3 linked regions of the Homo sapiens genome follow. The protein of the gene in region 3 purifies or fractionates together with the protein of the main gene of each other region. This does not show direct contact. Each region holds a gene or a part of one and is shown on either strand. Other genes may lie near its edges. The genes, in order: KIF5C, ANAPC7 and TANK.

The links.
Region 1: the proteins of TANK (region 3) and KIF5C purify together in Homo sapiens (affinity purification with mass spectrometry, with the first as the bait; one large-scale study listed by BioGRID). This does not show direct contact.
Region 2: the proteins of TANK (region 3) and ANAPC7 purify together in Homo sapiens (affinity purification with mass spectrometry, with the first as the bait; one large-scale study listed by BioGRID). This does not show direct contact.

The regions. Positions count from the first base shown.
Region 1 is NC_000002.12:149,021,647-149,025,302, reverse strand, and holds part of KIF5C (kinesin heavy chain), read right to left. Parts: intron 2,226-3,656; 3' UTR 1-2,225. UniProt on the Homo sapiens protein: Microtubule-associated force-producing protein that may play a role in organelle transport. Has ATPase activity. Involved in synaptic transmission. Mediates dendritic trafficking of mRNAs.
Region 2 is NC_000012.12:110,372,647-110,376,302, reverse strand, and holds the end of ANAPC7 (anaphase-promoting complex subunit 7), read left to right. Parts: intron 1-86; coding exon 87-237; coding exon of another isoform or gene 238-241; exon of another isoform or gene 242-829; intron 830-1,969; coding exon 1,970-2,159; 3' UTR 2,160-3,403; downstream 3,404-3,656. UniProt on the Homo sapiens protein: Component of the anaphase promoting complex/cyclosome (APC/C), a cell cycle-regulated E3 ubiquitin ligase that controls progression through mitosis and the G1 phase of the cell cycle.
Region 3 is NC_000002.12:161,233,285-161,236,743, reverse strand, and holds the end of TANK (TRAF family member-associated NF-kappa-B activator), read right to left. Parts: intron 1,403-3,459; coding exon 1,226-1,402; 3' UTR 514-1,225; downstream 1-513.

The sequences.
Region 1 (3,656 bases), about 12 Mb from region 3:
AACTGACTGGCTGATCAGCAACTAGCAGAATTATCTTTAAGAGACATCAAAGCCAACTTTCTCTGTGAATAAAAGTAAAGCAAATGTTGTCAGTCCCTTGTAGAGATCAAGTAAAATGGAACTACAAGCGAATGTTTCCCTTTGAAACATGAAAGTGCCAAGCAATTCTTTAGAAGTAGAAACGGGGTACCCAGGGAAAAATCACCCTGGAAAGAATCTAAAACAATCTATTTTATGATGGATATTAACAAGAGCCAAAAACCATTACTGACCTTTGTTCAATTTCCAAACAAAAAGTAATGGAGAGTAGTGGTAATGACAATTAATAATTGGCAATCCTCTCAAACACCAATGTTTAGCTTCCCAAATCAGAAGCAAACATATCAACAAGGTTATGTGGCATATGTTATTACCTGATAAGCTTTGCAAAACCTGCCCCACAAGGACCCTTTTATCAGACCGCAAATAATGGTAGAGCAGGTATATTGGGCTGGCACTGATAACAAAATTAAAGAATGAAAAAAATTTAAACAAATGCAAAATTGCCATCTTCACAAAATAAATACTTCAATAGAATTTGTCGTCCTCTCTCTCCTTATTCCCCACCAAAAACAAAACATACATAAACAAAGTGCAACATTTAACAAATAAATTAAGTCAAAGCAGGTTTGCTTTGCTAGGGAAATTTTGTACAAGAAATGTTTGGATGTCAATGCACAGTTCTTAGCACTTTACACACATACACACACACACACACACACACACACACACACACACACACACACACTTGAGCTACCTTCGACCCACACAGTCATGAGAAAAGCCCAAAGTCTCCCCTGGCATATATTTCATTACAGTGGTGAAAGCTTCAGGGCACAGTGCCAGCTCACTCATCTTGGGCACACAACATGATAGGATAGGAGTTTCCACCGAGATTGGTTTGGTTGTCATTGACTTACCCCCAAATTTGTCAAAACAAATAGCAGCACAGTCAGTTTCCCTGAAAACTTTACTACTTGGAAATTGATCTTCTTAATAAGCACAACTGGAAGTAAGGGTTGATTCAGCTTTAGATTCATGTATTTGGATAAAGCAATAACTAAATGTAAAATATCCATCTATGTGGATTTTTTCTAATTGTGCCTAAGAAGATGAAACCTATTTGGTGCCAAAGAAAGAATTCATATAAACAGTCGCCAATTATGGGTTAAAATAATAACTTATTCATGGCAACTTACTCATACACAAGCACAAAGAACAAAATTTTGACAAGCACTTTCTCCCGAAGGCTTCCTTTTTCAACTGCTGGAATGATGTTGGATTTCTTCAGCAATACCCACTCAAGCTGAAAATGGTTAGAGAAAGCAGCCATTCCCAATGCAAGCTTCAGAACGATCAGAGAGGAAGTAGTGAGGAGAGGGGCAGCCACATTTCCACTTATCCAACTTTGCAGCATTTTCAGCACTTCTGAAAGAACGATGTTCAAACCGGGCCGGCTAAGACTAGTTGCTGCAGGTTCAAAAGCAAGCAGCTCGGAGGTGAATTTTATGACTTTTTGCATTTACACAGATGTATTTGAATGAACAAATTCTACACTGCTACTGTCAGATTGTTTTTCTGCCCCAAAGAAATTTGCTTTGCATTTTAACAGGTGCCATACTAAAAGGTATATTTTACAGATCCAAAGATGTGACCAGGATATTCAAAATGTGTCTTTGGGGTAATTTGTTTCGGAAAAGTGTTCAGAAGGAAAACTTTGAACCCTATAGCAGCACTTTTTGTTCCCTAAAAATATAAAACAATGTGTTTATTTTACAGGAAACCAGACAGTTGAGGCAGACCATGATCATCTGCCTCCACGGCACTTGGTTGTTCCCCTCTAGGGAATGGCACATTAGGGCGTACAGATGGGACAGTGCACTGCCCAGAGGAGGCTCCAGGAACCACCCAGAAACCACCCAACACCCCGGAGGCCGAGTCGGTGGTAATGGTTCTCAGTAGTAAGTGGATCTTCTGCAACCATCTCCTTCAGATTTCTCAAAAAGAGAAAAGTCCGAGCACACATCTGTACACACAGAAACTCTACACAGCTCAAAAGACCTGAAACTGGTGTACTGCAGATGGCTGGAGTAAGCAAGTATAAAAAAAAAATGGAAACTGTAGGGGGGGAAAAATAAAGGAATTGGTGATTAATGTAGTCCTTGACATGCTACGTGGAGTCATATCTGTTGAAAGAGAACCAAAGAGAGAACATAGGAATTAGAAAACACAGTAGAAATTTACTCCTCAAAAAAGTTTTGTTTAATTCTAGATGTTTAGACCAGAGCTGTCAGATACAAATATAACACAAGCCACATATTTTTTGTTTGTTTGTTTTTGAGATGGAGTTTCACTCTTGTCACCCAGGCTGGGGTGCAGTGGCGCGATATCGACTCACTGCAACCTCTGCCTCTCGGGTTCAAGTGATTCTTCTGCCTTAGCCTCCCAAGTAGCTGGGATTACAAGGGTTTGCCACCACACCCGGCTAATTTTTGTATTTTTAGTAGAGACGGTGTTTCACCATGTTGTCCAGGCTGGTCTCAAATTCCTGACCTCAGGTGATCCACCCACCTCGGCCTCCCAAAGTGCTGGGATTACAGGTATAAGCCACCGTGCCCGGCCAAGCCACATATTTAATTTTAAATTCTCTAGTGGCTACATTAAAAAGTGAAAAGAAATAGGTAAGATTAATTGTAATATATTTTATATAGCCTAAATAGTATTTCAACATGTAACTGGTATTACATGTTGAGATCGTTTACATTACAATATTACTACTGAGATTTTTTTTTTCACACAATAGTGTTTGCAATCTGGTGTATATTTTACACTTTCAGCCCATCTCAATTTGGACTTAGCCACATTTTGAGAGCTCAAAAGACACATGTGGATAGTGGCACATGAACAGCACAACCTCCGATTTCCTGATTTTGCTTTAAGTATTTAGTCCTGACAGTCTCAACATTCTCTTCCATAAGTCGGTATCTGTTGAGGCTATGGATATTCAGAGTAACATAATGCATTTTCTCATTCCTAGGGGGAAATTAAAACATTTCTCATTTGCCTGCACTTAGGATAGCAAGCAGGTGCAACAAGGCCCCTAACCCAGACTCTCTGTAGAAAGAGGTTCCCAGTTCCCAAAGGTATGCTTCGTCTCCATCGGATAATAAGATTCTCCAAAAGACCACCCCTGTCCATTTCATTCCACTTCCCACCAGAAGTTCGGCTGGTGCTGGGCGCATCTCCAGGATGAACGTCTAGACCAGCCTGAATGGCCTCTGTCAGCCTGCACCCAACATCAGTAAGCTCAACTTTCAGAAGACACTGAAAGGCTCTGTTTCCTGTCACCGGCTGGAGGCCCTAGCTCTGAGATCTTACTATAGGTTTTGTGCAGAGCTCATGGTACTCTAGGGGATGGGGACAGGGATGACAAGAGGGAGGTAGAGCCTTATCCTTAAGAAATACATGGAATTACCTGGTACTGGAAATACAACAGCCACTAAGAAAAGCCCAACTTCTCTTTTGATTAAAAAAAAAAAAAAAAAAAGCCCTCTGTAACCTGACACATTATGCATTATGCTTTCTGTTTTGCCTCTAGAAGGCTTATATCAACATTT
Region 2 (3,656 bases), on a different chromosome or scaffold from region 3:
TGAGGATGTCTGCAAAGAGATGGTCAGAATGGTAGTTGTGGTTTTTTTGTACATGACTTAAGTGAGGGTCTTTTTTATTCCCCCAGGCAGAGAACAGAAATATGAAGATGGAATTGCTTTGCTGAGGAACGCACTGGCTAATCAGAGTGACTGTGTCCTGCATCGGATCCTAGGAGATTTCCTTGTAGCTGTCAATGAGTATCAGGAGGCAATGGACCAGTATAGTATAGCACTAAGGTAGGCACTAGCCTCCCTTGGGGGAAGGCCACTGAGGAGGGTAGAGGAGGCAGTGAGCTGTGTCACAGGAGTTATGGAAACACACACACACTTTGTGTCCATGGTTGAAAGCAGAATAATAATAGTAATGGTAGAAGAGTTATTTGTGAATTCATGACTTCTAAAAATTTTTTCTTAAAATATATTAACAACATTAGAGAACTGTTTCACTCATAACCATCCCACACCACTATAACATCTGTGTTCATTTGTATAGCTCATCTTCTGTCCTTGCCCACACACACATATTTTTATAGGGCTGTACCTAGTATATATTTTATATTCTTCTTTTTCAAATCAAAGTATTGTAAGTACTTTCCCATGTTTCTATCTACTGTAGTCATTAAGAACTTGAGGTCTGAAGTTTTGAATACTACCTTCACCACCTGTGATCTTGGGCAAGTTACTAACACATTTCCTTGTCTATATCTAGCTACCTTATTAGATATTAAATGATCGAATGAGGGTTAAATGATTATTTCATGTAAAGCTCTTAGCCCTGTGCCTGGTACATAGTAAATGCTAAATAAATAGTGGTATTCTTACTGTTTAATACAGAAGTGGTTTCTTTGAGGGTTGTCTGTGTGTCTGTAAGGTTATGGTGAAGGGCTGTCTTTAATAGAGTCTGATCACATTCAATTGTTCAGCACACAGTTGAGCACCACTTGTGTGCCTAGCATCTCAGTGACAACTGGAGATGCTATGTTTCGGGAGCTGTCAGTCTCAGACATGCAGACTGGCCATGCCATGTGCTAAGGGCTTTCATAGTAGTCTGTAGAAGGGAAGGTGGGAGTCCAGAGGGCAGGAGCCCTGGGTATGGGTGAGAGCTTCAGAGTACAGGATGTGGAAGGCTTCAACCAGGAGACGAGGAGATGTTACAGATCGGTCCGCATTTATATCGGTAGAAACGGTGCCAACATGGGTTTTAGCTGCTTTTTAGAATCTCAGAAGCAAGTGAGAAAATAAAATATCAGACTTCCATTAGAGGTGGGGTTTGCTAGGCGTGGGACGCCTGCTGGCTTGGGTGATGGTCACTAAGGCAAGAGGAAAGATTGCTTAGGAGGCAAATAAATGAATGTTCTAGAGGCTCTGAACTTTGGGGGTGGGGGTGGCGTATGTACTGACACTCAGCTGCTAAATGTGAATGCTTGGGTAGGGGTAGCCTTGGGTCCTGGGGTCTGACCTAGGTGTTTACAAGTCTGTTCCATGGTACAGCGTGATGTTTTTGGTTGGCTCCTGAAATGCTGCTATGTTTAATTACATCATAAGAACATGGGACACCTATACTCAGAGAAATTCCTATTTTTTGTAACCCTGTAGCTCTAAAACCCAACTTTCTGGGAATTCCATTTGAATTTACCTGGTAATGTTTGTTTGCCACTTTTTCATTTGTGTTATCTGGTAGCCGCCTCTAGCAGAATGCTAGGGGTAATAGGTATGAAAAAGTTTAAGAAATTTGTGGAGAAAAACTCAAATTGAGAACTCTAAAAATTAGGAAGAGACTCCTTTTTGCACTTCTGGTGGTGGACTCCCTCAACCCAGCCTTGGAAGCCTGAGTTGTTTGGAGAGGCCAGGCTTTAGCACATTTTTTGGGACTGTGTGGTCATTTCACTGCCGGGCCAGGGAGATGACGAATCAGCCAGCAAGAGCAAGGCAGAGATTCAGGCCTCTCCTTTGTTTTGTTGTCCCCTAGTTTGGACCCCAATGACCAGAAGTCTCTAGAGGGGATGCAGAAGATGGAGAAGGAGGAGAGTCCCACGGATGCCACTCAGGAGGAGGATGTGGACGACATGGAAGGGAGTGGGGAAGAAGGGGACCTGGAGGGCAGCGACAGTGAGGCGGCCCAGTGGGCTGACCAGGAGCAGTGGTTCGGCATGCAGTGAGGGGGCGGCAGCTCCATGGCCGCAGTGGCCTGCCCTGCTCTGAGCACTTCCGTGGACTGAAGGAACCGTAGGAGCCTGCTCTCAGAAGGACAATGATTCAGCATGTGATTGCAGCAGGGGTCTCTGCCCCCTCGCTCCCAATTCCTAGTCGTGACTTCATTTCTAAAACAGAGCCTGACCAACCTTCCATGTATCTCCATCCTCCCCTGCTCCAGCCAGGGAGGACTGAGGGAGTGCCCCGAGACCCACGCACATGTTGGGGCTTCTGGGCCAAGAGTACTTTTTATATAACTAATTTCTAAATCCAAAAGCTCAAGGAATAGACAGTGTTCTGTGACATGGATTGGTTTGAAGGAGTTACCCACCATCCCAGCACGATAATGTCATCTCCCAAGTTGGATGGCAGCACGATCTGGCCCTAGGGAGCTTCCTGTTCCCAGAAGTCATTGTCCTGGGCTATCCAGATGTCCCTAGTAAATCTTGCTTCCTTCTGCAATGTTAGTAATGCCTTAAGCTGACAGTTGCTATTTTGCAGAACAGTTTTCCTCTTTGCTTAGCTAGTAACTTGCCTCTGAGCCTGGGCTGATCTGAGAAACAGGTGTGACAAGAGCATGAACCAGAGGTGCACCTGGGGCAGTTCCCTAATAAAACTGGTTTGTACAGTCATGGTGTTGGGGTGATCAGAATGGAAGCCCTTTTCAAAATAGACTCTTAGTATTTTTGTCTTATTCGCAATGCATTGATTCAGCCCCAGAATTATTTGCCAGAAATAGACTTTCTTCCCCTGGTGTTGGGAGCCAGGAGGGTTGGAAAGCTCAGGAACCCTGAGCTGGTTCATCTGTTTGCATATTGGGTAGGTTAATTTCCCTGGAGCCTGAGAGTCTTTGGCCAGATTTCAGCTGCGTCTGCCTGGCTCTTTTGCTGCAGCTGTGAGATTGGGGTCTGGTTCCAGCAGTCTGTCACTGGTCAGCCTGAGTATCACACCCTGAGCTCTGGGGCTGGGAGTTTCTTCCCACACCCTCTCCCTTGTGCCTTAAGTTGCGATGGCTCTGAGTATACAATTAATCGGAGGTGAGGGGTGGGTGTCACAGCTAATCCCAAATTCAAAAATTAGTCCAAGGTGCTGCAAAATATAAATTTGATGTCAGTAGAAAGTCGTATCCTAAAATGTAAAAACTGTAAGTGTACAGTAGTTAATGAGCTCAGAACATCTGATAACTGCAATTTAAAATGGGCAAAAAGTTTCTATGAGTCTTTCAGTCTAAGACCCAAAGCCTGCGCAACATCACTTGATCTGAGCCACTTCTAAAGAGACATATAAGGCTAGGCGTGCTCACACCTGTAATCACAGCACTTTGGGAGGCCGAGGCGGGTGGATCACTTGAGGCCAGGAGTTTGAGACCAGCCTGGCCAACATGGTGAAACCCCCGCTCTGTTAAAAATACAAAAATTAACCGGGCATGGTGGTACACACCTATAATCCCAGCTACTCAATAC
Region 3 (3,459 bases):
TCTAGTTTAAAGCACTTGCTTCAAGAAGGCTTAAATTTCTGAGAGTTGCAAATCAATGCTTACTTCATAAAATGGAAGCCATGCCTTAAACACTTTTAAGAATCAGGGGAAAACAGAAACCTATAAGGCGAGAATCATAGGGAATAAAAATGAAAGGGAAGTCTCATTTTAAACAAATTTTGCAGCCGTCTGAATTTGGTATCCACTCTCTCAAATGTCTTCAGTGGCCATCAATCAGGCTGCTAACAATGAATAACAAATTTCTCAACAAGAATATGAACATTTCTAATCTAAGTTAACAAATATAGATAGTCCTTGCAGGGTTTTAGATTTTCTCCCGTTAAAAACAAATGTTTCTTTAGAAAGTTTAGTTTGAAGAATAATTCTAAAATTCAAAGTGATTCACTAATTGTAATAAATGCCACCAAATCTGGTCATCACCATTCTATTAGGTTACTGAAATGAAAACATGAATTTTATAAACTTCCCTAAAAATGTGATTCCTTCCTTCCCTTTTTTTTTTTTTTTTTTTACTCAGGAACAAAGGACATACAAATGATCACAACATAAGTACCTCTTAATATTTAATTAATTTCATCATGTAGCTATACACACAGTAAAAATTAAAGCCATGTATATTATTTAAAAATCTAAAGTGTTTAAATAATTCTACCAGTTGTTTTATCACTGGACAAGAAATGTATTAGGTTTGATATTTACAAAGATGTTTATGTTGTCTGCTATTTTCTATTATAGGTTTATTCAAAGAGAATATCACCTATAGCATAAATAATTAAATTTTTCAATAAAAACAAACTAAAAAAACCCTAGAAACATTTGACATCACCAAATTCAACAGCTCTCACTAGAAATCCAAGCAATAAACTTAGATATTTGAAATAAACATAAATTATGATTATATAACTCTAAGTCACATACATAATTTTGAATTATAGTAATAGCACTGTAAACATGAATACAAAGGATTACAGTTTTATACAGAATTTTTTTTGTTTTTCTTCTTTTAGGCTTATTTCTCCTTGAAAGAACAGAATGATCTTTTAAAAAATAAGAGTTATATAGTAAATCCAGAAAAAAATTCAAATAGCTGTGAAACTAGATTTTCCTATAAATGATCTTGAATTTAGTTTACAATCAAGTATTTATAGTATTAAAAACCCAAAATCATCACATAGAACTTGATATGTCTGTTTTCAAATGTGTCTTAAGTCTCTCCATTGAAGTGTGAATTAAGATGCCGAAGGAAATCCCCCCTGGATGTAATGGATGGTGGGAAAACTGCTTGACAGAATTCACATACTCGAGGTATATGCAGTTCTGAGTCTGTGCCACTTAGTACCACCGAGTCACTGTCTTGATTAGGAAAGGGCTTCCAAATGGGCTGCAGGAAACAAACAAAAATATCTGTTACTTATGTTTAAATTCAAATAGCACTGGACTTCAAATTTGAATTTCTGAATGAGTTACGCATGGGCATATATATTGAATTCCCTAATATAAAAGCAAATTACTTTTCCGTAAAGTTAGCATGACATGACTCAATTCGTGGTTTCATAAAGGGCACAACTAAACTTTGATTAAAAGTCACTTGGGACACACACAGTCATGCATTTTATCTTTATATATTTAAAAAGATTGCAGCTTTAGCATGCAATTTTTAATACTCGATCACAACAGCAGTAGTTTTGGAACAATAGCTAATACTCTGGTCTTTTAAATTAAATTCTATCTTTTGTTTTTTACAATAAAAACCTTAAATTATAGGGGCTTTATTAATTACATAGTACACAAGACATGATGTGTGTGTGCATTGCGTCTTAATCAAAATCAATTTCACTACTGTTTATAAGCAAATACAGTGAATACATCATACATGAATCAGCATTATTTTGATTTTTAAAAAGAAAATTTTCCTTTTAAACTACTGAACAAATTTCACTGATGTTATCTTTTGTTTTTAAAAACACAAATATTTAATCATTCAACAAAATCTAACACATGCAGTGTTTTGACTTCTTACTTTGCTTCTGTTATATAATAGGTAGTTTGGCCTTACTCATTCTTGTGGCTGAATAAAGTGAAACTCGTCAATAGTTGCCTGGTTAAAGAATTATGGAAAGTCATAATCTAACAGAACCACCTCCACTATAACCAGCACATAAATACCCTTTCATAACTGCATTTATTCTTTTTTTTAAATTTCTAGAAGGACAAGAAATAGCATTTAGCTTAATAATAGCTACACAATAGATGTCTGTTAACTGGAAAATATTTTCCTGAATTGTGTAAACCAAATTATTTTTTAAAATTTCTTATGTGGACACAGGTAAATTCCTCTGACACAGCTAAATTCTGATATTTTAAGAAGAATCATCTCATAAAGTCAAATTTAAAGAGACCCCTTATCCTCCTATTACTAATATGTTTTTAAAGTCACACATCCTAGTCTAGCACCTGACAAGTGTTACTGTTATTTCCCCTAACTTCTTTCATTCTGGTTAACCAATCATTTACATAAACAGTATATTACTAATGGAAGCACTTGGATTTCACGACATCACTGTCTTCTTATGAACAGTTTACTGGACAGCTGTGTACAATTGGTGTAAATATACAACGTCTGTCTAGGCACCCAGACACATTCAAATATCAGTATGGAGGACTTATAATAATGCTGACTCAATTCCTTTCATAAGAAATGTCAATTTTATTACAAAAATAGTAATATTTAAAATAAATGTTATAAAATTTAGGGTAAAATAACTCTCTGGAAAAACTTCTTTGATAAAAGTAGTAAAAATTGTGAGCATACAAACAAAAATCTAGTTAGAGTTAACTTGATTCTAATTTTAATGTTTTCAGTTTAAACAAAAAAGTACAAATCACTGTAATGGGAAATTGATATGGCCAAAAATAAAAGATTATTAAAGATAATTCTTATTTATATAAAATAGTAAGAAATTAAATCAGAAGCAATTTAGCTTCTAAATTTGGTAAGCCAATCTTCTACTCCCAATTTACCTATTAAATCCATATTCATTTTTCTCTATTAAGAACTTTTAGTTCAGATTTGATCTCTTCATAGAATTTAGTTGGGATCCCACTCACTGACTCAGCAAAGTAAAAAAGAAAATCACATAGAACAATAATAATCTGATATACTTTAGTCTTGGTTATGATAGCTGAATATATAAAATAGATGTTTAGTAGTAATGATTGATAGAAAGTAAAATTTTGAAATATGTAGCCAAAAATTTCACTTGTCTTTGCTACTATCTACAAACAACTCAGGATTTTTTTAAAAAAAAAATTATTATTATTATTTTGAGACAGGGTCTTGCTCTGTCACCCAGGCTGGAGTGTGATGGCACCATCACAGCTCACTGCAACCTCGAACTACCTAGCTCAAGCAATCCTCCCACCTCAGCTTCCCAAGTA